2 linked regions of the Homo sapiens genome follow. Each later gene encodes a partner of the first gene's protein in a complex. Each region holds a gene or a part of one and is shown on either strand. Other genes may lie near its edges. The genes, in order: POLH and REV1.

Region 1 (12,737 bases):
GTTGCTTTAAAAATATATATTTAATATAAAAATAAAAATATAAAATATATAAAAGTTACACATATATAACATTTCCTCCAAGTGGTGTTCACTCTATTTTATGTGTATATATTATATATATATTATGAATAAAGAACTGATAAACATTCCTTCCAGCGTGATGGTTCCAGATTTTTTCCATGCTACGGCCAACAGTAGCCCTACTAGTGTTGGAAAAAAATGGACACAAAGGAATAAGAAATTATTTGTTAGAGACATCCCCCTGACGTACATAGGGGTGAAATAACAATTTCTAGGGTTTCTTTTAAAAACCTTCGAGGCAGGGAGAGAGGATAGGCGGTGGAAAAAGTAAATGCGGTAAAATCTTTGATTGCTGAATTTAGGTGACAGGAACATGCAGAATCACTGTCGTATTCTCTCCACTTTTGTGTCTATTTTAAATATTAATAATAAAAACCAAACTAATGGAACCCAATTGTTTCTGATTCCAAACCCTGTGGCAGACATCTACATATTGTAACATTTCCTCCAAGTGGTGGTCACTCTCTTTTTTGAAGTTAACATCACTTTAAAAATGTACAGCACAAGTATTTTCTCCTAAATGGCCATTTCTCACAGCCCACACACGTTGTTTTATGGGCAAGTAAGCTTGAATTGTATTAACACCCCCAAACTGCAACATAAGTCAGTCCCAAGAGCAGAGCATTCGGGTCTCACGCAAACTACTTTCAGGAAACCAAAGTGCCCTTGTTAAAATGCAAAGTAAGTGGTAGAAGTTATCTTTGCGCAAAATAGCCTAAAAATATTACACTCAAAAACATGGGAGAAGTAGGGGTGCGAGAATTTCCCCGGAAAATGTCCAAGACACAAACGAAAGTTAGCGAGATGTTAAAGCATATAAGCATAAGGGTACCAGAGGGGCTGGAGCTCGGTCAGGGCCAGGGGAGTGGGCCAGCAGGAAAACGTTTAGTGCAGGAGAGACCATAAAGAACGAAGCTGGTGTTGGGGGCGGGATCTACACGTGCGCCTCGGGAAGGCGAGGGGATGTCGGGCTTGGGGAATGAAAATGGGCGAGGGTCATGTTGCGGACAAGAGTGCACAGAAGCGAGGAAAGGGGGAGGAGAGGGCTGTGGGAAGCTGCGGCGAGATGAGAAGCAGCATAGGGACCGGAGTGTCCCAGGCAAAGGACAGGAGCGGCGAGTAGAGAAGGCGGCGATTTGGGAGAGGCGCGGAGGGCCGCGAGGGGAAGGTCCCGGGGAGTTGGGAAAGGAGGTCCAGGGGCCGCGTGGGCGGGAGACTACCCCAGTTACAGGCGGCGCCGGAGCTGCTGGGGCTGGGAGAGGGTGTCGGGACCGGCCCAGGACGCCAGGACCCCAGCTACCTTGAGGGCTTCCAGCCGGTAGCGCTGGGTGGAGTTGGGGTCCATCATGACCGTCACCGCTTTCACCAGCTGCTCGCACAGCGCGTTTACTTGATCCATCGCCATGCCTAGCGCCACGCGCCGAGAGCGCACACCACTGCAGTCCCGGGACCACGAGGCACGACAGCTCCCTCGGCGAGACCACCCGTTGGTACCGGGCCGCGGCGGGCGGCGGGGGTGGGAAGCTGGAGGAGGAGCGTTAGCAGCAACTCGCGCTGGGAAGAAGCCGGCGCTGCGCACGCGCCCGGCCCGCCACTGCGCACGCGCCCGCGGAAGTGGCGGCTCCCGTGTGCAGGTTGAGCCTAGGTGGGCGGGGCGGGAGGCGGAAGGGCCGCGGTGCGCAGCCGCGTCAACGGCCCTTCGCAGCGGGCGCGCTGTCAGACCTCAGTCTGGCGGCTGCATTGCTGGGCGCGCCGCTCTCGTCTGATCCCTGCTGGGGACGGTTGCCCGGGCAGGATCCTTTACGATCCCTTCTCGGTTTCTCCGTCGTCACAGGGAATAAATCTCGCTCGAAACTCACTGGACCGCTCCTAGAAAGGCGAAAAGATATTCAGGAGCCCTTCCATTTTCCTTCCAGTAGGCACCGAACCCAGCATTTTCGGCAACCGCTGCTGGCAGTTTTGCCAGGTGTTTGTTACCTTGGTAAGAAAATTTAGAACCGTTCGCTGTCACTGTGTTCAGACTTTCTATGTTGCCTTGGCTATTGGTTTTATAATGTAGCAGTGACTGGGCCAAGGTTGCGTGAAATATAAATCATGCTAACAGGGATAAGGCCCTGGTACTGTCTTCTAAGATTTTTCTTGTAGAAAAAAGTATGTTTTTCCCTGTAGTTGTTAAACCTCTCTCTTGGAATTACTTTCCTGGATGTATTATTACCTGGTGGGCACTAAACTTGTTTTGTGCGGATTGGGGTAACTCGAGATGTTTAAAGGGAATAATTGCAATCAGTGAAGGTTTGTGCAGTTTTGATAATTGGCCAAGTGCTATGTATAAGGTTTCAAAGTAGTGTAATCCTTATCCAAAAGCATGGCTTGGGCAGAAAGTCTTCTTCATTTTCCATCTTTATAAAGCTCTTGGCCGGGCGCGGTGGCTCACGCCTGTAATCCCAGCACTTTGGGAGGCGGAGGCGGGCGGATCACCTGAGGTCAGGAGTTCGAGACCAGCCTCACCAACATGGTGAAACCCCGTTTCTACTAAACATACAAAAATTATGTTTGCATTTTTAGTATTTTTATACAGGCGTGGCGGTGCGCGCCTGTAATCCCAGCTACTCGGGAGGCTGAGGTGGGAGAATCGCTTGAACCCGGGAGGCGGAGGTTCAGTGAGCCGAGATCGCGCCTTTGCACTCCAGCCTGGGCGACAGAGCGAAACTCCGTCTCAAAAATAAATAAATAAAGCTCTTGCTTTCTCCAGTAAATACATAAACGGAAAACCTCAACAGCTTTATTATCTGTTAAAGTCTGCATGTCTGTTTTTGTGATTGTGTGCTTAGTAAATTGTGTGCTGAACATAAATCACTGCTTCCTATTCTTGCTCCACTTCTGGTATTTGGATCTAATATGGTGCTTAGCCTGTGTTTTTTTGTGTTACAATACTATTTGTTGGCTCAGTCTGTTCCAGTACTACTGAAAAGCCACTTCAAAGTAGAGGGACTTCTGGCATGTTATAGTTTTAACTTGTAAATGTTTAAAGTATCACATTCTGCCTGTTTTAGGCGTGGTCGATTGGAATTTATAAGGAATTAATGCTTTGACTGCTCTGATTTTAATTATTTTTCTTTCCACTCACCTTCCTGCTTTGCAGTTGTAAGACGTTTTTTTTTTCAAGGTGAATGTTAGTTTTTGAAAAACTTTTTTTAGAATACAGTTGGGTGCTCACTCAACTGTATAACCTGTGTTTCTCGTATTTAAATCATGGATTGCTGGTGTTTCGATTGTCTTATTTAGGTCTTGGCTCCCAAACTGCTGCATATTGGAATTACCTGGAGAGCTTTTAAAAATCCCCGGCCTGGCGCGGTGGCACACGCCTGTAATCCCAGCACTTTGGGAGGCCGAGGCGGGCGGATCACGAGGTCAGGAGATCGAGACCATCCTGGCTAACACGGTGAAACCCCGTCTCTACTAAAAATACAAAAAATTAGCCGGGCGGGGTGGCACGCGCCTGTAGTCCCAGCTAATGGGGATGAGGCAGAGGAATCACTTGAAACCGGGAGATGGAGGTTGCAGTGAGCTGAGATCTCACCACTGCACTTCAGCCTGGGTGACAGACGGAGACTCTGTCTAGGAAAAAAAAAAATCCCCATGCTAGGCCGAGCGCGATGGCTCACGCCTGTAATCCCAGCACTTTGGGAGGCCGAGGTGGGTGGATCGCCTAAGGTCAGGAGTTAGAGACTAGCCTGGCCAACATGGTGAAACCCAGTCTCTACTCGAAATACAAAAATTAGCCGGGCGTGGTGGCGTGCGCCTGTAATCCCAGCTACTCAGGAGGCTGAGGCAGGAGAATCGCTTGAACCCGGGAGGCGTAGGTTGCAGTGAGCCGAGACTGTGCCATTGCACTCCAGCCTGCGCAACGAGAACGAAACTCTAACTCAAAAACAACAACAACAACAAAAAACTCATGCCCAGGTCATACCCATACCAATTAAGTTAGTATATATAGTTGTGGAAGTCAAATATCAGTAGTATTTAAAGCAGCCTGGCGGGGGGACAAGAGCGAGACTTTGTCTCAAAAAAAAAAAAGTGTCATGGTCATGAAAAACAAGGAACAACCGAGGAAATGCCACAGATTGGGGGGCAGTAAAGTATGTAGTTAATAATATGCCAATGTTCATTTTTAAATTTTGGTAATTGTGTTAAGTAAGATGTTAACATCAGGAAACTGGGAGTAGGAGAACTCTACCATTTTTGCGATTTTCTGTAAGTCTAAAAGTATTTCAGAGTAAAAGGTTGACATTTTTCATGAATGCTATGATGTTATATATTATTTTCTCCTTCTCTTTTCTCTGAATTTATACTTGAGATTTGTCTGTCAACTGATTCCGTATTGGTTCTCTTCCCCTGGTGATGTGCATTTTAATTTCCATTTCCCCATGACTAATGATGGTGAGCCTATTTTTATGTGCCAATTGGCTATGTTTGTATTTTGTGGTTAGTTCTTTTAAGGATAAGTATTTTTAAAGCTTTTAATACCTATTGCCTTCATAAAATTGTACTAATTTATCCTTATGCCAGCAGTACAGGTTGAGTATCTGTGATATTGTGATATATGTATGTTAGTTTTTGTCCACGGTTCCTAGCTCATAACTCCCCTAGCTTTCGTTATAATGTTGGAGCTCTTGAAGCAAGCCTCAGAAAACAGAATCTCTCTCTGGCCTTCTGCCCTCCTTTCACCTGCCCAAAGCAGGACTCTAATCTTCCCCTGCCTTTCTGATTATGGGTCATAAGACTTTCATTTCAGAAGAGTTCCTACCCCATACCCTGGAGAAAGGAATGCTACCCAGAGAGGCCAGGAAGAATCTGGACAGGCCTTGCTGGGTTTCCCCAGTCTATTAGTATTAGATCATATCTTTTTTGTCCAGTCACATTTCTACACGGATGTCAGTCATGCCTATCCAATGAAGTTTCCATAAAAGGCCCAAGAGGAGAGGGTTCGAAGAGCTGCTGGATAGGAGCAAAAGGAAGTTCCTGGAGAGTGGTGTTCCCAGGGAGGGCATGCCTTGCCATGTGTATCTCTTCATCTGTATATCCTTTATAATAAACTAGTAAATTTGATTACCTGAGTTCTGTGAGCCACTCTGGCAAATTAACTGAACCCAAAGAGGGGCTCATGAGATTCCCAATTTATATCCAGTCAGTTAGAAGCACAGGTAAAACAACCTGTGGCTTGTGATTGGCATCAGAAGTAGGGGGCAGTCTTGTGGGACTGAGCCATCAACCTGTGAGATCTGACGCTTTCTCCAGGTAGATAATGTCAGACTCGAATTGGAGGATACCCACTTGGTGTCTGCTGCAGAATTGATTGCTTGTTTGTTGGTGGGGAGAAATCCTCACACATTTGGTCACAGAAGTCTACCTTATTGATTGTTGTTGAGTGAAAGAATCTTTTTTTTTTTTTTTTAAATTTATTTTTTTATTGATAATTCTTGGGTGTTTCTCACAGAGGGGGATTTGGCAGGGTCATGGGACAATAGTGGAGGGAAGGTCAGCAGATAAACAAGTGAACAAAGGTCTCTGGTTTTCCTAGGCAGAGGACCCTGCGGCCTTCCGCAGTGTTTGTGTCCCTGATTACTTGAGATCAGGGATTGGTGATGACTCTTAACGAGCATGCTGCCTTCAAGCATCTGTTTAACAAAGCACATCTTACACCGCCCTTAATCCATTTAACCCTGAGTGGACACAGCACATGTTTCAGAGAGCACAGGGTTGGGGGTAAGGTCACAGATCAACAGGATCCCAAGGCAGAGGAATTTTTCTTAGTGCAGAACAAAATGAAAAGTCTCCCATGTCTACTTCTTTCTACACAGACACGGCAACCATCCGATTTCTCAATCTTTTCCCCACCTTTCCCGCCTTTCTATTCCACAAAGCCGCCATTGTCATCATGGCCCGTTCTCAATGAGCTGTTGGGCACACCTCCCAGACGGGGTGGTGGCCGGGCAGAGGGGCTCCTCACTTCCCAGTAGGGGCGGCCGGGCAGAGGCGCCCCTCACCTCCCGGACGGGGCGGCTGGCCGGGCGGGGGGCTGACCCCCCAACCTCCCTCCCGGACGGGGCGGCTGGCCGGGCAGAGGGGCTCCTCACTTCCCAGTAGGGGCGGCCGGGCAGAGGCGCCCCTCACCTCCCGGACGGGGCGGCTGGCCGGGCAGGGGGGCTGACCCCCCCACCTCCCTCCCGGACTGGGCGGCTGGCCGGGCGGGGGGCCGACACCCCCACCTCCCTCCCGGACGGGGCGGCTGGCCGGGCGGGGGGCCGACCCCCCCACCTCCCTCCCGGACTGGGCGGCTGGCCGGGCAGAGGGGCTCCTCACTTCCCAGTAGGGGCGGCCGGGCAGAGGCGCCCCTCACCTCCCAGACGGGGCGGCTGGCCGGGCGGAGGGCTGACCCCCCCACCTCCCTCCCGGACGGCACGGCTGGCCAGGCGGGGGGCTGACCCCCCCACCTCCCTCCCGGATGGGGCGGCTGGCCGGGCGGGGGGCTGACCCCCCCCCACCTCCCTCCCGGACGGGGTGGCTGCCGGGCGGAGACGCTCCTCACTTCCCAGATGGGGTGGCTGCCGGGCGGAGAGGCTCCTCACTTCTCAGACGGGGCAGCTGCCGGGCGGAGGGGCTCCTCACTTCTCAGACGGGGTGGTTGCCAGGCAGAGGGTCTCCTCACTTCTCAGACGGGGCAGCCGGGCAGAGACGCTCCTCACCTCCCAGACGGGGTCTCGGCAGGGCAGAGGCGCTCCTCACATCCCAGATGGGGCGGCGGGGCAGAGGCGCTCCCCACATCTCAGACGATGGGCGGGCGGGCAGAGACGCTCCTCACTTCCTAGATGTGATGGCGGCTGGGAAGAGGCGCTCCTCACTTCCTAGATGGGATGGCGGCCGGGCGGAGACGCTCCTCACTTTCCAGACTGGGCAGCCAGGCAGAGGGGCTCCTCACATCCCAGACGATGGGCGGCCAGGCAGAGACACTCCTCACTTCCCAGACGGGGTGGCGGCCGGGCAGAGGCTGCAATCTCGGCACTTTGGGAGGCCAAGGCAGGCGGCTGCTCCTTGCCCTCGGGCCCGCGGGGCCCGTCCGCTCCTCCAGCCGCTGCCTCCCGGGCGGCGCTCGCCGGCGCGGCGGCAAAGACTGAGACAGCTCTGCTGCCCGCTGAACTCCATCCTCCCGGCGGTCGGGCGGCGGCGGCTGCGGTCGGTCGCGGCAGCGGCTCCGCTTCATATCTGCAGCTGGGGCCCGCGGGCGTCAGCGCCGCGACTGTCCCGGCTCCGCACTGCCCCGGGCCGCAGCGCAGCCGCGCCAACCACCACCCGCGGCCACCATGGCCGGACGGGCTCCCTAAGCCACCGACCCCAGCCCGCGGCGCCTTCGAGCCTTCTAGGGCCTCCGGCGCCGCGACCTCCTCTCAAGATCGAGTGAAAGAATCTTAAAAACTGTTTTTTCCACTCAGGGTATCCCTAATCTGAAATTTGAAATCTTCCAAAATCCAAAAAATTTTTTGCACCAACACAGCATTCAAAGGAAATGTTTATTAGAGCATTGTAGGTTTAGGATTTTTGGATTACGGATGCTTAACTGGTGATTATAATGCAAATATTGCAAAATTTGAAAAAAATGCAAAATCTCAAGCACTTTGGATCCCAGCCATTTCAGATAAGGGATACTCAACCTGTATATTTAAATGCCTATTTCATTCTTGTTAGTTTCCATGCTCCCATGCTCATGGTAACTCATCAGTGAAAGAATGGAATTACAGTTTTCCCTGGCATTTTGGATTAGGTGTTTTTCTAACTGTCCATAAAATGTTGTGTTACAGAAAAATGGCTACTGGACAGGATCGAGTGGTTGCTCTCGTGGACATGGACTGTTTTTTTGTTCAAGTGGAGCAGCGGCAAAATCCTCATTTGAGGAATAAACCTTGTGCAGTTGTACAGTACAAATCATGGAAGGGTGGTGGGTATGTATCATTGTTATTGTCACAACTATTCAATGGTAACACAGTGGCACTGTGGCAGGTCCTTTGTTGTTGTGGTGGTGGTGGTGGTGGTGACAGGGCCTTTCTCTGTTGTCCCATCCAGAGCGCAGTGGCACCATCAGCTCACAGCAGCTTTGACCTGGGCTCAAGTGATCATCCCTCTTCAGTCTCCCAAATAGTTAGAACTACAGGAGCGCCCCACCATGCCAAGCTGATTTTATTTTTTGGGGGGTGGGTAGAGATGGGGATTGGTTGGGGGGGCAGGGCTCACTATATTGCCCAAGCAGGTCTTGAACTCCCGGCCTCAAGCAGTCCTTCTGCCTTGGCCTCCCAAAGTACAGGAATTGCCAGCATGAGCTGCTGTGCCTGGCCCTATTTTTGAGATTTCTGAACTGCTTTGTTTTGGATTGAATGATGGCATCTGTGGTCAAAAAGTTTCTAATATGTTTATAGATTACTTGTGTTAAATGTTACTTGTTTTTGCTTGTGATCATATAATATGTTTTCTGTTTCCTTTTTTTTCTAACCTTAGAATAATTGCAGTGAGTTATGAAGCTCGTGCATTTGGAGTCACTAGAAGTATGTGGGCAGATGATGCTAAGAAGTTATGTCCAGATCTTCTACTGGCACAAGTTCGTGAGTCCCGTGGGAAAGCTAACCTCACCAAGTAAGAAAAAAACATTATTTAAGGAGACATAAAGGAGTCGAAAATAATACTCCATGAGGCTAGGAACTGGTGTTTTGAATTTGTTCCATGTAAATAACACCGGAAAAAATTCTTTTTGGTTAGCCATCTTGTCTCTGTGAAATGAAAAACAGATTTTAATATTGTGTTTTGGGGACAGTTCAAAACCATTATACCATATAAGAGTTGCTGCCTTTGATATCTATTCAGTTCCTTAATTGTTCAAAATTGGTTGTTAAATTCAGACTTAATACCAATTCCCATGTTCTCCATCCAAAAATCTAAAGTATTTGAAAAATTGACTGTGAAACTGAGAATTTTTCCAGGAAAGGCTGAGTCAAACTGACATTGTAGTACAATATCAGGAATTAGTTGCTATAATTGAACAATATCAAGGGAGATTTCTCTGTTTTTAGATTAAGCTATCTCTCCGCAAATATTAGAAGTTTCACCTTGGAATGGGGGATATGAATCAGCATAGCTAAGTCAGAGGTAGGCACAAACCCCAGCCTTTAATCCTAACAGCTAATATGTATTAAACATATTATCACATGCCAGGCACAGTGTTAAGCTCTCTATAGGCAATATCTCTATTAAATCTGACATTGTTATAAGGTAGGTACTAATATTACTCCCCCTTCACAGATAAGGAATCAAGTTCAGAGAAGTTAAATAATTTAAGTTAGGCTGGGGATGGTGGCTCATGCCTGTAATCCTAGCATTTAGGGAGGCTGAGGCGGGCAGATCACTTGAGTCCAGGACACCAGCCTGGGCAACATAGGGACCAGCCTGGGCAACATGGGGAAACCCCATCTCTAACAGAAAATACAAAAATTAGCCAGGCATGGTGGCACACACTTGCAGTCCCGGCTACTCAGGAAGCTGAGTTGAGAGGATTGCTTGAGCCTGGGAGGCAGAGGTTGCAGTGGGCCCAGATCACACCACTGCACTCCGGTCTGGGTGACAGAGTGAGACCCTGTCTCAAGAAAGAGAAAAGTTCAGACAGCTAAGTGAAAGACTGAGGATTCACATCTGTTTTTTAAGATTCTAGTATCTATGTTCTCAAGGTACACTATACTATGTGTTGTGGTATAGGAATCATGCTTTGACTTAGGACCTGACATACTTCTGAATTCTAATTCTAATTCTATGAATTAGAAGTCTAAAGGTAGAGTGGCATACAGACCCACATTGGAATTATTGCTAGAAAAGAAGATAGACTTGACTGAAGATTAAGTTTTCCAAATACTCTTAAAAATACCTTGCAGTGATTTGCTCAAGAGGCTGTGAGGAAGCACTGAAATAGAGTATTGTTTTAGAAAAACTCAAACTATGGTTTTCCTCTCCTCTCACACCACAAGAACAATCAACACAGAAGACATCTGTGACCAAAGGTGTGGAAGTATTTCCCCACACACCAATCAGCAGACACCAGCTGCATGTCCTCGCACTCAATTCCAACACTGTCTACCTGGAGATGGCATCAGATTCCACATGTTGAGGGCTCAATACCACAAGAACACCCCCTCCTTCCTTTCCATCACAAGTCCAGGCCTTTAGAACGTCTGAACAGCTGGCTTTAAGTTGGGGTTCCTGCAACCCCCTCTTTGGATTTGATTAATTTGCTGAAGCGACTCACAGAACTCAGGAGAACACTTACTTATGTTTATTATAAGGGATATTACGAAGGATACAGATAGGTTGGGCATGGTGGCTCACGCCTGTAATCCTAGCACTTTGGGAGGCTGAGACAGGAGGATTGCTTGAGCTCAGAAGTTTGAGACCAGCCTGGGCAACATAGTAAGACCTCGTCTCTACCAAAATTAAAACAAAAACAAAAACAAAAAAATTTAGCTAGACATGGTGTTGTGCAGCTCTAGTTCCAGCTACTCAGGAAGCTGAGGTGGGAGGGTCGCTTGAGCCCAGGAGATTGTGGTTCCAGAGAGTCATGATCAAACCACTGCATGCAGCCTGGGCAACAGTGAGATCCTGTCAAAAAGAAGATGAAGATGAAGAGATATATAGAGCAAGGCATGTGAGAAGGGGTGCGGAGCTTTCATGCCCTCCCTGGGTGAGCCACCCTCCAGGAATCTCTACTATTACAGCTATTTGGAACCTCTCCGGACCCTGTCCTCTTGGGTTTTTAGGGAGGCTCCGTTATGTACTCATGACTGATTAAACCATTGGCTATGGGTAATCAACTTGACCTGCAGTATCTCTCTTCCTCTCCCCTCCCCAGAAGTTGAGGGGGTGGGGCCAAAAGTCCCAACCCTCTAATTATGCCGTGGTCTTTTTGGTGACCTGCCCTATCCTGAAGCTATTAGTTAACATTAGCATACAAAAAGACAAAACTTGGGTGATTCCAAGGATTTTTGGAGTTGTATGCCAGGAAACTGGGATGAAGACCGAATATATATTTCACAATATTATAAGTATCCTTTTCTGGCTGTGTGTATGAGTATATTGCTCTTTCTTTTCTTTTTTTTTTTTTTTTTGTGGGTGGGGGACGGAGTTTCACTCTTGTTGCCCAGGCTAGGGTGCAATGGTGCAATCTCGGCTCACCACAACCTCCATCTCTTGGATTCAAGTGATTCTCCTGCCTCAGCCTCCCGAGTAGCTGGGATTACAGTCATGTGCCACCGTGCTGGCTAATTTTATATTTTTAGTAGAAATGGGGTTTCTCCATGTTGGTCAGGCTGGTCTCGAACTCCTGACCTCAGGTGATCCACCCACCTCTGCCTCCCAAAGTGCTGGGATTACAGGTGTGAACTGCTGCGCCCGATCTTGCTCTTTATTTTCTTTGAGGCCTATCCTCTTCCTAGTTCAAATAATGATTTAAAAAAAAAAAAAGTCAAGTATTTCTCTAATTCTCTAATTTGAGAGTGTTTTAGAACAATAATTATATTAGTTTTTATGGGTGTCATGGTGAAGAGGTACCGATGTTTTCATTTTTATGGTAAATATAAAGTCAATAGGAACAAAGAACTGGACACTACAAAGCAGGTCCAAGCCAAAGGAAAGCAAATATCTGTATATTGGCCGGATGTGGTGGCTCACGCCGGTAATCCCAGCACTTGGGGAGGCCGAGGTGGGTGGATCACCTGAGGTCAGGAATTCGAGATCAGCCTGGCCAACATGGTGAAACCCTGTCTCTACTAAAAATACAAAAAAATTCACCAGGCGTGGTGGCAGGCGCCTGTAATCCCAGCTACTTGGGAGGCTGAGGCAGGAGAATTGCTTGAACCCGGGAGGTGGAGGTTGCAGTGAGGCGAGATGCCACTATTGCACTCCAGCCTGGGAGACAAGAGCGAGACTTCATCTCGAAAAACAAGAAAAAAAAGAAAATATCTGTATATTGTCGTAGAAAACTAGGTATAGAGCCAGAAGAGCTGCTTATTAAAGTTTGAATAGAAGACATACGATGAGATTGGTATGTATACCCTGAGGAAGGTTGTCTGCCTGCCCAGACACATCACCACATTCTAGGTGCTTATCTTCAACTTGATCATTTGAATATTAGTATATCCGTAAATGGTTGGTTAAGGCATGTGTGTGTATGTGGTGATGACCAGTTCACATGTTAACCAAACTCACCGTTGACTGAAGTATAAAATCCATATGCCAGTTTGTTAATTTATGGTGAGAAATACTATCCTGGGGAAGACCATATACTCTGGTTCACTGATCAGTGCAGTGTTGCATGTAAATTACCCTTTTTTTGAAGACAAAATTAGAAGCAGAAGATTTCTTGGTGGATATATGAAAATAAAAGGAATAGGTGATCATAGTAATACACAAATTTGAGGCATTTCTTTATTTTTTAGAGAGTTCCTTGTCATATAGACGTGTTCATAGTCTGAATGCTTTCTGCCTTGGTAGTTCTGGCATTGTGCTAAAAATGTTTGCCTCCGTGATTCTTCCTTTTCCATGCTTCTATTATTGACCATCTGCCTGCC
Region 2 (12,737 bases), on another chromosome or scaffold:
TGGATTTATCTGTTTCTCTCCCTCCCAACTAGACACAGGTTAGAATTATTGGAAAGACACTCATGCAGTTTCCCTGTGTGCCTGCCTCTTGCATGACCCAGCCTGTCTGACTGCTGCTGATGCTCTGATTTCCTGGGGAAAGTGCTAGACGCCAACCATCTCCATTAGAAACTTGCCCCTTTATAATTACTCTGTAATCTGTCTGGTACCTGGAGTTCCTAATGGATATCCTGTTTCTCAACAGCCTTTATCCCAGTGCCTTTAGTACCCACTGGCAAGCGTTGCCTAAGTCAACTATTACGTAGATGGTTGCAAAATTGTGGATATACCTGTCCCCCCATTTCTTACAAAGAACCTCTTCCCACTGACCTTTTTATTGAGTCATAGACTCAGTGGGTTTTTTTTTTTTTAATATAATCCATTACCTTTATTCTTTTGATACTCAGATTTTCTATTGTGGTCAGTAGGAGCTCAACTGGCTCCTGTATCCTTGACACACAGCAGTCTGAGCATCATCTTCCTTTCTGGTTGAGATGTTCCAGCCTCATCTAGTACTTTCCCTGGCCCAAACCTGGTTCTTGTAATGGGCAATGGCACTTAGAAGTTGTCATTGCTTTTCTACCATTTCAGTGGACTAAGCCTGGACATTTATTTGTGTTACTTTCTATGTGGCTTTGGCCTCCTAAACCAACCAGAGCTCTCCCTGTTTTCACTCTTACTCTCCTGAATCTTTTTCTCCACAAAGGAGTCAGGGTTTTTTGCCCCAAACTCTGAGATCACATCACTCATCTGCTCACAGGCCATCATTCTTAAAATTTCAGGATTGGTCCTCACTCTGACTTCATTCCCATCAGCCACTTCAAGCTCATTCCTGACTCAGACCCTTTGTGCCTGCTGATCCCTCCTATTACGGCACCTGTCACGTGAAATGGTAGAGCAAAAATAGGAAATGACATTGGGTCAACAGGGCACTTGGAATGTTTTGCAAAGCACATTATCTCCTGTCATTCTTACAACCATCATGAAGGGAATAGGGTGTTGGTGGTGCCAGCCTAGTTTACCAAAATGTTACACCGTGAGTGATGAAAGGATCGCACTGCCATGACTTTTAAAACAGGCTTTTGCTCTAGTTCTTACTTCAGCTATCCAGCCATGGCGCCTGTGATTGGCATGAATTCTTCTGCATGCATTTTAATTTGTTCTTATTTTATAGTTTGTTGACATCGGAATAGTAACAAGTATTGAAATAAACCATAAACAAGTGGATGTTGCAAAAAAAGGACAAGAAGTTTGTGTAAAAATAGAACCTATCCCTGGTGAGTCACCCAAAATGTTTGGAAGACATTTTGAAGCTACAGATATTCTTGTTAGTAAGGTAAGTATTTCAGCAAAAGTGGCACACTTTAAGCAACAGGGAATCACTCTTCTTGGGTCACCTGTACCTGTAGCTCCTTGGGCTTCAGTTTGATTGTAGAATCTGATGGGACTGGATCCCCCATTAGGGCTTGACCTCTAGCTGGGCCTTGTCTGTTGAGGAAGTTGCTCTATCAGGAAAGCAGCACCAACAGAGAAAGCTAGGACTTTTAGGTCCCCTCGTGCCTGACATGCAAACCAGATGTGATTTTGGAATTCTACTCCCTTAGGCAGGCAAGCCCTGTTTTTTATTTCTGCTTAAGCTTTTTAGTACAGTGAGAGCGGGCATCTGGGGCCACAGCTTTCTTTGGCACGTTTGTTATGTTCTGTTTACCCTGTTTGTGCCTCGGGCATTGCAGATCAGCCGGCAGTCCATTGATGCACTCAAAGACTGGTTCAGAGATGAAATGCAGAAGAGTGACTGGCAGCTTATTGTGGAGCTGAAGAAAGTATTTGAAATCATCTAATTTTTTCACATGGAGCAGGAACTGGAGTAAATGCAATACTGTGTTGTAATATCCCAACAAAAATCAGACAAAAAATGGAACAGACGTATTTGGACACTGATGGACTTAAGTATGGAAGGAAGAAAAATAGGTGTATAAAATGTTTTCCATGAGAAACCAAGAAACTTACACTGGTTTGACAGTGGTCAGTTACATGTCCCCACAGTTCCAATGTGCCTGTTCACTCACCTCTCCCTTCCCCAACCCTTCTCTACTTGGCTGCTGTTTTAAAGTTTGCCCTTCCCCAAATTTGGATTTTTATTACAGATCTAAAGCTCTTTCGATTTTATACTGATTAAATCAGTACTGCAGTATTTGATTAACCAAGCTTCTGCAGATTTTGTGATTCTTGGGACTTTTTTGACGTAAGAAATACTTCTTTATTTATGCATATTCTTCCCACAGTGATTTTTCCAGCATTCTTCTGCCATATGCCTTTAGGGCTTTTATAAAATAGAAAATTAGGCATTCTGATATTTCTTTAGCTGCTTTGTGTGAAACCATGGTGTAAAAGCACAGCTGGCTGCTTTTTACTGCTTGTGTAGTCACGAGTCCATTGTAATCATCACAATTCTAAACCAAACTACCAATAAAGAAAACAGACATCCACCAGTAAGCAAGCTCTGTTAGGCTTCCATGTTAGTGTAGCTTCTCTCCCACAAGTTGTCCTCCTAGGACAAGAATTATCTTACAAACTAAACTATCATCACACTACCTTGTATGCCAGCACCTGGTAACAGTAGAGATTTTTATACATTAATCTTGATCTGTTTTAATCTTGATCTGTTTTAGTAGAGATTTTTATACATTAATCTTGATCTGTTTTAATCTTGATCTGTTTTGTCCTAGAAAATTCCATCATACACACATTTCCTGATATTTGGGCTTAGTGCTTCTAAATTGTTGCAGACACAAAACTTAATGATTCATTCGTAGTAGTAATCTGTAGCTAGTTTTAGGGTTTTGCTGAAGTCAGTGTGGGGTGTTTGTTTGAGGAAAAAGTTCCAAATATCCACTAGCATAGAATTTTAAACTATTTTTATTTTAAAGTTATGGCATAACATATAACATAAAAATATTTTATATACGTTTGAAAAATCTATACCGTTCTTTTTTATCATCAAAGTTTCTCAATGGCCAGTAGAAGCAAAAAGACAACACCACCTCTGATCTACGGGACATAATGTTCCCAGGAAAAAAATCTTCAAGTGGGTGTGAGGGTGTTTCTAATTCAAAATATGTAGATTTCTCCGCATGGAAGAAGTAGTAAAGATTTTCTTAACATGCTCCTGTGTTCATGCTTGGAGACAAGAATAAGATGGTTTAGAAGCTTTACCCTTTCTTGGAACAAGTAGAATCCCGGTCTGAGACCTCTCAGGAATTTCAGAGCTTAGCAGTCTGGCCTGGAGGTTTTTCAGCCTTTTAGTATAATAAACAGTAGTTGCTTCCTAGAGTTGAGTTTTTAAGGATTCACAAAAAGGAGCCTGTACAAAATATACATACAGTTCTTTATTAAACAACTGTAAACACTTCACTGTAAAAATCCATAAAACTTTATAAACAAACATTTTGTAAATAGAATCTATGCTACAGTAAAATAATTAACACAATTATTTACATGCAATACTGACAAATTTGGCACTTTTTGAAAAGAAATGTACAAAACACTTGCTTTAAAAGAAATTTAAAATTATAAAAACTCCGAGCATTACTATCATGCACTTTGCAAATACCTCACAAGCACTTATGGCACAGCTATCAGAGAGCATCAGGCTCTCTGGTAATATTTATGTAACTTTTAATGTGCTTCCATAAGTTTGTTGTAAAACCACCTGGACATTGTCAAGAATAAAGTCAAATGCCATATTCCAAACCGATTCCACCGATTGCTGCATCAGCCTAAAGGTGGGGAGAGAAGAAATGTCATTAGGAATTAGGAAAGGTCCTTAAGACTAATTATTCCTTTTTATATATAAAAATTGACTTTGGCAAAAAAAAAAAAAAGTCCTGGCCAGGTGCGGTGTGGCTCATGCCTGTAATCCCAGCACTTTGGGAGGCCGAGGAGGGCGGATCACCTGAGGTCAGGAGTTTGAGACCAGCCTGGCCAACATGGTAAAACCCCGTCTCTACAAAAAATAGAAAAATTAGGTGGGCATGGTGGCACATGCCTATAATCCCAGCTACCCGGGAGGCTGAGGCAGGAGAGTCACTGGAACCCAGGAGGCAGAGGCTGCAGTAAGCCAAGATCCTGCCACTGCACTCCAGCCTGGGCGACAGAGTGAGACTCCATCTCAAAAAAAATAAAATCCTAGAACACTCAAATTTTTTTTTATTTTGTTTTGAGACAAGCTGTCGATCAGGCTGGAGCCATGCAGTGGTGCAATCATGGTTCACCGCAGCCTCCACCTCCCAAGTAACTGGGACCACAGGTGGGCACCACCACCCCCCCAGATTATTTATTTTTTGTATTTTTCAGTAGAGATGGGGTTATGCCATTTTGGCCAGGCTGGTCTCAAACGATCCACCCACCCCAGCCTCCCGAAGTGAAGTACAGGCGTGAGCCACTGTGCCCAGCCCACTTCCTATGGTTTTTTAATCACATGTAAGACCTTGAGGGCAACATATTTGGAACCTTATTTGCTACTTAGTCAACATGGCAAAATAAAGGATATCACTTTCTCATTAACCCTAATGAGTACAGTTTCCCAGAAAGTTTAAAACAACTCAGTACACCCTCAGCCATTGTGACATGCCATTTTTTCCCATTTGATAAAAGTGATGAATTACTACCTTTTCATGTATTTTATAACTAGATCCAGTTTTTCCAAATCTTTTTCTTCTATTAGATCAGTACAGTATTTCACAACTTGGAGAATGTCTTCTTCCATTGGATCTAGGAAGGGGGAAAAACTTCAAATGAGGACCAGTCTTTTTGAAGGAGAAAGTCAGAGATCTGCATGGATAAAGGAAAACTGCATTTCTACAACTATGTCACTAACAGCTATCAAAGGAATGGGCTTTGTTACTTTTCAAAGCAAGTCCCAGAATTTAAAAGATTTGGGGGTAGCTGCTTTAAGCTTATCAGAGTTAGAGAAATGGGTTAAATCTGCATAGTTTAGTCTGTTTATGTTCTCAAATCATGAGACGACTACATCTCAGCCTTGGGCCATCTAACACAGGCCAAGCCAACCTGAAATTGTAGTTATCCATTCTCTGAGCAAGGTCTTCACATCATTGAATTCAACAGCTCCAGCTAGATTGGGTGCTGGAGGTCTCACACAGCCAGCTGGGTCAGACTGCAAACTAGAAAGGCCTGGCACACCTGAAGTAGAAGCAGAGAGTTCTTCCTGTTAAGAAAACAAAGGATAAAATTGCTATATTCACACATTATCCAGGTATATTAAGATCTCATAAAGGTCAAAGTTAAGGAATTACCAGGGGTTTCTCTGCAGGAGGTCCTTCATGTTTTAGAAACCCATCAATTAACTTCTGGGGACTGCCACAGGCCCCTGGCAGAGTTTTTGCAGGACTGTTAAGCAGCTTGTTATTCAAAGGACTCTGAATCCTTTTTGGTGAACCAATGGTTTTTTTCTTCTTGTTTCTTTTCTTTTCTTTCACTGCTGCCTTTAGATGAAGTAAAGGATTCTTTGGCACTAAGAGCAGATGGATATAAGATCCTCAACAAAATGATAGTATGGATAGTCTGGATGACAGTATTGGGTTCTCTTTTCTCCTCCCAAATACAACAGGCTCCCTAGCCTACACCTCCCCTCCTGCCCCAAGTGAGAGGCAGTGAATGGCAATGGCCCAAAGTACAGGCTCTCCAATTCTCTCTTTGCTTTGCCACTTACTAATTTGACCTTTGGCATGTTGCTCATCTATGATGGGTAGTACTAAATGTGGGTTTGATGTTTGTGATGCATTTTGAACCAACATCCTTTAATGTATTCATCTCAAAGGACAACTAGCTGAACAAGTATTTAAGACATTTGTGGTAATGTCCTATTCCAACTTTTTAAAAAGTAAAAAGTGGTGTGTTTAAATCCTGAAAGTACAGACACAAATCCAACTAGAAATATGATGATATTTACTCATACTGTATACTTCAGATATTATCCCAATATGAAGAGCTCTTAATGCAACAGCTTAGACTTTGCCCATTATATACTGCAATAATTAGACAACAGTGACTCCATTACTCTTTGTCTTCATTTTTGTTACATGCCACTTCCAAGGCTCACCAGATGCGCTGGCTGACTGCTGGTGAGTGCTGTTCTCGCCCTGCCTTTGTCTTTGATCATACGCTGCTTTCAGCTCCCTCTGAAGTTCAGCAGGAAGGGCAGCAAATACCTCAGGGTCCACCTAGTGGAAAAGACGAGGTCAAAGTCAAACCTGAGCTAATTGTAGATGGTAGCTGGTTTCTCTTTTTCACAAAACAGACTTTGTTTTCAAATCTCACTTTTCTGATCTGTACGAATTCTTAACAGTTCCCCAATATCAAAGCTGATTAAATCTTCAAAATGGTTAGAGCAAGAATAAGGAATTAAGAGCAAGAATAAGGAATTAAGAGTACTAACTTAAAGAAACCCACTACAACAGCAGAACCTGGGCAAAATGCACTAGTAGAAAATGGGAAGCAAAACATTGAAACAGGGACTCAGGTTGTTACTGTCCCCCATGCAGGATTATACATCTCCGCTCTGTTGTATTCAAGTGTGGCCATTGATGTGTTTGCCCCAGATCAGTGTGTTTCTGTCTTAGCATGCCCTCCCCCGTCTCTTCCCTGCTGCTTCAGCGGGAGGCTGCTCTGTGTCTACATCCTGCAGATGCAGGAGATGGAGACAAGCCCACTCTCCCCTCCCCTCCCCTCCCCTCCCCAGTGGATGTGGTGTCAGATACAGAGGAGAAAGGGAAGTGAGACAGGTCCTAAGTTGGAGCAGGGGGGTGAGAATATTGAAACTACAGCAGAGGGTTCCCATATTTAACTTACCTGTGAAAATGCTGGAAGGGCTATTAAATTTATTCCTGCGTCACTGTTCGATTCTTGAGGTTCTGGTATTTGCAACAAGACTGTCCCAACTGGTTGTGGCAAAATTCCTGTATTACAGCCATTTACTGGTTCTTTCTTTTTGTCGCCATGTGACTCTGCTTGCTGGACAGCACAGACTTGCTCTACTTGTTCCCGGAGATCAGGTGGAAGTGCTTCTAAAACAGACTGATCCAGCTATAAAATGCCAAACATATGAGTAGGAAGTTAAAGCATGCTCAGAGATGAGGTGTTTGGGAGTTAACACGCCACTTTAAATTTCAATTTGAATACTGTGGATAATCAATGTAAGGTACAGACCATCAAGCTAGGAAAGCCACCTCCAAATCAGCACATTTTTGGAACGTCTTGGCCTTTTGTCATTGAAGCCTGAAGTACTATGTGTAGTCTGGAAAGAAGTGTATATATACTACCAGCCACTATCACATGACCAGGTAAGTCCAAATATACTCACAGAATGTCCTGCAATTGGGGCCAACAGATATGAATAGCCTTGGTGAAGCTCAAATTAGATCCCACCCCAGGGAGGGGTGAAGGCCTGAGGCACATGTTAAAATTCTGGACAGGTAACAGTCCTGGGTCAAAAGTTCACCTTTCAGATGAGAGACTGCCCAAAAATACAAATAATTCTACTCTGAGAGCAGCACACTGGAAGAAAGGGTTTCTAGAAGCTGAATTTTCTCTAACTTACAGGACAGAATCCACTGTTCCTTTGGCCAGGGCCTACCTGTGCATCCACATCTGGCCCTTTGGAAACATGCAATCCCATCAACTGGGTGGACCAATCTTATCTTGCCAGGAGTAACTAATTGTGGGTATCTGTCGCCATACAAGCATATCAGCATTGCCCTTTCCCCTAGTTTTGCAGCCAGTATTTAACATCTCCTTCCGCCTCCTTCCATGCAGGGGGAGCAGAGGCACAAATAAACTTGCCCAATATAGCTTAAGGTGCTACCTTACTTTCAAGGACCAGCAGTATATCACATGTACAGCCCACACACGCTGAATTAAACCATCCAAATCTCCAGAGACCTGTTTGCAAATACTGCAAAAACCCTTCGACATAAGGCCTCTACTTCACCACTAATCACCAAAGCTGCCTTGCTGAATACAGTAAGTCTGCATGATGACCACTGTCACAGACAATGGCAGTCCACAGGAGGACTGCCTTTCAGCTATGCTTTACAACTTGCAAGAGTGGCAAATCTTTGCAAAAGCACTTTCACTCAACCCAAATATTGCTTATTTAGAATCCAACATCATGATCTACCCAAACAAGTGGCCCGTTCTCCCTTTCTTGGTTAAACGGATGAAGAAATAAAAATGCCATTTTCATTTGTAAACTTGTATTTTTGTATTTATATTTAGGAGTATAAAATGTACTTATATTTAGGACTACAAAAATGTACCTGGGAAGGTGACGGGACCTCTATACTCAGGTTAAGTCTCGACTGCACACTGACAGGAGTATGTAGACCATTCCATTTCCCTGAAGACTCAGCCTTGTTAGTATCAGGACTGGTCGGCAGATGTGCAGGAAAAGGTGGCAAGAAAGTGCAAGTTCTAGAAGCAGATGATATTTCCAGATCCACAGCAGCCCGAAATACTACAAAAAGAAAATATATAAAATAGCCTCTTCAGATCATCGGGCAGGGCCTTTAATCCTCTGTCCATTACAAATAAAAAAACTTTATTACTGATTCATCATAATGAAGAATATAAATTTTTAAAATCACATAAAGCTGTGTCAATTTTAAAACCAACTGCCGTCTTTCCAAGGACATAAGCAGCACCTAAAAAAGAACCACATTGATGACCACCAACCTTCTTTGTGCTCCTCTTCGGTGGATTTCTTAGCTTTCTGAACTTGGAAGACATCACGGACAGAGTATGACCCACTAGGAAAGTGGCTTGACTGAACTGATGGGCGACTGGGACATGTGGAAGGGTTCAGATTAGTTGGAACCAACTGATTCACGTGAATCCCAACCTAGAACCCAGAATAAAGAGTATGCTTCTAGGAAAACTAAAGTGAAAATATGAATTCAGCTAAGCAAAATCCTCAGCAAATCCTTTTCACTATCTCCTGGATCCTGTTTCTAGAATAAAGGTAAATGAAAGTATTCAAACAGCATTCTATATGACTTATTACAAAAACAATTTCTAAAGTAGCTAGTGAGTGGTCATTCATCTCAAACTTCAGAGTATCCAATTCTCCCAAAATATACCAAAAGATCTTTAAAATCAGAAAATCCAAACAAGTGGAATACTGTATTCCACTGATGTTCTCGTCAACTAAGGTTTTAAATTAGGATAAAAAAAAATTAAGAGAGGACAGTCTACTTGGAAACTTCACTATTTTTATCTTTTTTAAATGAAATACTTCTCAAAAAATATTGGCGGGAGTGATGAACAGCAGGTACACTGCAGACCCCTCCATAAAGTGCCATTATAACAGTATTTCAGGGAGAAATCACAATTACGGCTGGCTTAGTGACTAATCTTTCAACAAAGCCCACATCAAGCCAGAACAACCCTTTACTTACATATGCACACATAAAACTAAACCTACAAAGGTTCTTTTTTTTTTTTTTTTTTTTTTTTTTTGAGACAGAGCCTCACTGTGTCACTCAGGCTGGAGTGCGGTGGCACGATCTTGGCTCATGCAAGCTCTGCCTCTTGGGTTCAAGTGATTCTCCTGCCTCAGCCTCCCGAGTAGCTGGGACTATGAGGCATGCACCACCACACCCGGCTAATTTTTGTATTTTTAGTAGAGATGGGGGCAAGTGCCTGTAATCCCAGCACTTTGAGAGGCTGAGGTGGGTGGATCACCTGAGGTCAGGAGTTTGAAACCAGCCTGGCCAACATGGTGAAACCTCATCTCTACCAAAAATACAAAAAATTAGCTGGGCGTGGTAGCGGGTGCCTGTACCCCCAGCTACTCGGGAGGCTGAAGAAGGAGAATTGCTTGAACCCAGGAGGCGGAAGTTGCAGTGAGCCGATACAACGCCATTGCACTCCAGCCTGGGCAACAGGGCAAAAACTGTCTCAAAAAAAAAAAACCCCACACAAAAATCTATGGTTTTGACATTTTGATGCCTCTTGCCTGTTTCAAAGGCATCTTGATGTGCCTGTGGTTTCACTCCCTTCTAGGTCATCATACAGCAGATGCAGAGTATGTTTCTGATTAAAAAGGAACTTAAAGGTACAAAATTTATGTATTCATATTCCTCACAGTCATATCTACTTCTAGGAAACAAGAACAGGGAAGACATGTATATTAGCCCCTGGTTAATCAGGGGTACCTTGGAAAAGTACAGTAAGAATCTAAGAAAATTATTCTAAAATGAAGGAGGTCAAAATGGAGGAAGTCAAGAATTTTTGTTTCTCTTTTCCTTGTATTACAAAGCAGCTAAAGACCTACATATAAAGTCCCTATACACCAGCAATAACCCTTTTGAGAGCAAGCCTCAAAAATGAGAGATACATTACACAAAGTCAGAATTTACAATGTTACTATATACTTACCCCTCTCATATCTGATATATTTAGTTTCATTGTATGAAACATGTTTAGCATCGCCTTTCCAATTATTTTTGCATTATCTGTTGCCTGGTCAAGAGTTACAGTCCTGTAAGTGATAGAATTAAAAAACAAAAGCTTCATTCCATATGTATTCACTAGTACTAAAGTAGTATGGAACTGTTTAAAAGAGTTATAGAAAAGTTGTAAACAGTTACAAAGAAGATTATAAAAGTGAATGCCATAGTCTCCCTTCAAGGAAGCCAGAAATACCAAATTAGTTACACTGGCAACCAAGGGGGAAAGAAAAATTATGGAACACTAGAACTTTAAGGTAAAAACCGTAATGGACACTTAGGTCAACTAAAAATAAGTTGAGAAATTTAGAAAAAGGTAGATTTTAGCTAACATATGCACAAATAAATACATATTTTCCAGCTAAAGCACAAGTGAATGGTAAACACAATGTTCTTGATTCCAAGAGAAGTTTTAGGTTCCAAGATTATGTATGCTGAGGTATAGCAAATATTCAGAAGAGAAAGATAAATTCTCTGTATGTTGTTTCTTGACTCTCCTTTCATTGTGTTTACAGTACAGCCAATAAACAATTCTTAGATCTTTAAGAACTCTTGAAGGAGGACCAAATGGTCCATCAGCATTATTAGGTCTCAAAGATGTGCTGACCTCACCCACCATTTCCTTCAGAGCCTTTTGAGCTTCTCTGGCATGAGCGGGCTGTCCCATTGCAAACAGAATTACTAACTCAGTAACAGATTAACAAATTACTACCAGTTCTCTTTCCAAAGGAAAGTTATTTCGTGTTTTGGATGATCCTTTCCATGTATAATGAACAAATGAAGTTCCAGGCCATTAAACAAGAAATATTCCCAGAAAAAATTATTATAAATTGAATTGGATTTTCCCATAGAAATGTTTAAGAAGATAATCACATTACTTCATCTGCTTATAGAAATAACCACTAAAAGCTGAGCACAGTGGCTCACACCTGTAATCCCAAAACGCTGGGAGGTCAAGGCAAAAGGATTGTTCAAGGCCAGCCTGGGCAACAGAGCGAGATCCTGTCTCTACATAAATAAGTTTTTAAAGTAAATAAATAAATGACCACTATTTACTATTTGAGATACATGTGTATCATAACAGGTAGGTAAATATAATTCAAGATAACCAACTGATAAAAAATGTATTTTATAAATTATGTTCTCTAATTGTAATTTATAATTCCTGCTTTCATGGTAACTTGGGAGTTTCTCTGTTTAAGAGCAGTCGTCTCACGACTTAGCAATATCATCATATACATGAATGCACCATGTATGGTTGGCATGAGCTAATCTTTAATGAAACTATACTTCATATTGTAAGTAGCTTTCAGTGTCAAAAGTCTCAAAATTTTGGTTTCACAGATGAAATACAGTGCAATATAAAATGACATGTAAAACCACACATCTTCATATTGGTCACGAATCTTACATGAAGTTTAATATTAAGTAGTTGGCCCTGACATAAAAGACGAGTGTTTCAGACCGGGCACATTGGCTCATGCCTGTAATCCCAACACTATGGGAGGCTGCGGTGGGCGGATCATTTGAAGTCAGGAGTTCAAGATCAGCCTTGCCAACATAGTGAAACCCTATCTCTACTGAAAATACAAAAATTCGCTGGGCATGGTGGCATGCCCCATAATCCCAGCTACCCAACAGGCTGAGACAGGAGGATTGCTTGAACCCAGGAGGTAGAAGTTGCAATGAGCCGAGATCGCACCACTGCCCTCAGGCCTGGGTGACAGAGCCAGACTCTGTCTCAAAACAAACAACCCCCCCCCCCCCCAAAAAAAACAGCGTTTTTAAATGCTTTTACCAGTTTTCAGACATTACAGTGATTCATTCATCTTTTTACCAATTAAATGTATACACCTATGTAAATGAAGTTGCTCTCCTTCACCATCATTTTTCTAGCTACTATAGTCTGCCTTTGTGTATCATTTTTTTGAGACAGAATGTTGCTCTGTTGCCCAGGCAGGAGTGCACTGGCGCGATCTCAGCTCACTGCAACCTCTGCCTCCTGGGTTCAAGCAATCCTCCTGCCCCAGCCTCCTGAGTAGCTGGGACTACAGGCGAATGCCACCATGTCCGGCTAATTTTTGTACTTTTAGTGGAAATGGAGTTTCACCATGTTGGCCAGGCTGGTCTCAAATTCCTGGCCTCAAGTGATCCAGCTGCCTCAGCCTCCCA

The links.
Region 2: the proteins of POLH (region 1) and REV1 are in contact, whole or in part, in an NMR structure (PDB 2LSK), measured with the Homo sapiens proteins. Residues at the interface, in NP_006493.1 of Homo sapiens: Thr528, Glu529, Pro530, Phe531, Phe532, Lys533, Lys535, Ser536, Leu539; in NP_057400.1 of Homo sapiens: Asn1158, Leu1159, Ala1160, Gly1161, Leu1171, Leu1172, Trp1175, Ile1179, Asp1181, Pro1182, Met1183, Glu1185, Asp1186, Gln1189, Val1190.

Annotation. Positions count from the first base shown.
Region 1 is NC_000006.12:43,574,379-43,587,115, forward strand, and holds the start of POLH (DNA polymerase eta), read left to right. Parts: upstream 1-1,806; 5' UTR 1,807-2,062; intron 2,063-7,937; 5' UTR 7,938-7,941; coding exon 7,942-8,078; intron 8,079-8,628; coding exon 8,629-8,763; intron 8,764-12,737. Other genes in the region: XPO5 (exportin-5), read right to left, coding at 1,382-1,486. UniProt on the Homo sapiens protein: DNA polymerase specifically involved in the DNA repair by translesion synthesis (TLS). Due to low processivity on both damaged and normal DNA, cooperates with the heterotetrameric (REV3L, REV7, POLD2 and POLD3) POLZ complex for complete bypass of DNA lesions.
Region 2 is NC_000002.12:99,397,535-99,410,271, forward strand, and holds the end of REV1 (DNA repair protein REV1), read right to left. Parts: intron 10,598-12,737; coding exon 10,495-10,597; intron 8,957-10,494; coding exon 8,791-8,956; intron 8,573-8,790; coding exon 8,376-8,572; intron 7,144-8,375; coding exon 6,910-7,143; intron 6,282-6,909; coding exon 6,161-6,281; intron 5,573-6,160; coding exon 5,355-5,572; intron 5,267-5,354; coding exon 5,110-5,266; exon of another isoform or gene 4,813-5,109; coding exon 4,710-4,812; intron 3,819-4,709; coding exon 3,707-3,818; 3' UTR 2,943-3,706; downstream 1-2,942. Other genes in the region: EIF5B (eukaryotic translation initiation factor 5B), read left to right, coding at 1,214-1,375, 1,773-1,880. UniProt on the Homo sapiens protein: Deoxycytidyl transferase involved in DNA repair. Transfers a dCMP residue from dCTP to the 3'-end of a DNA primer in a template-dependent reaction.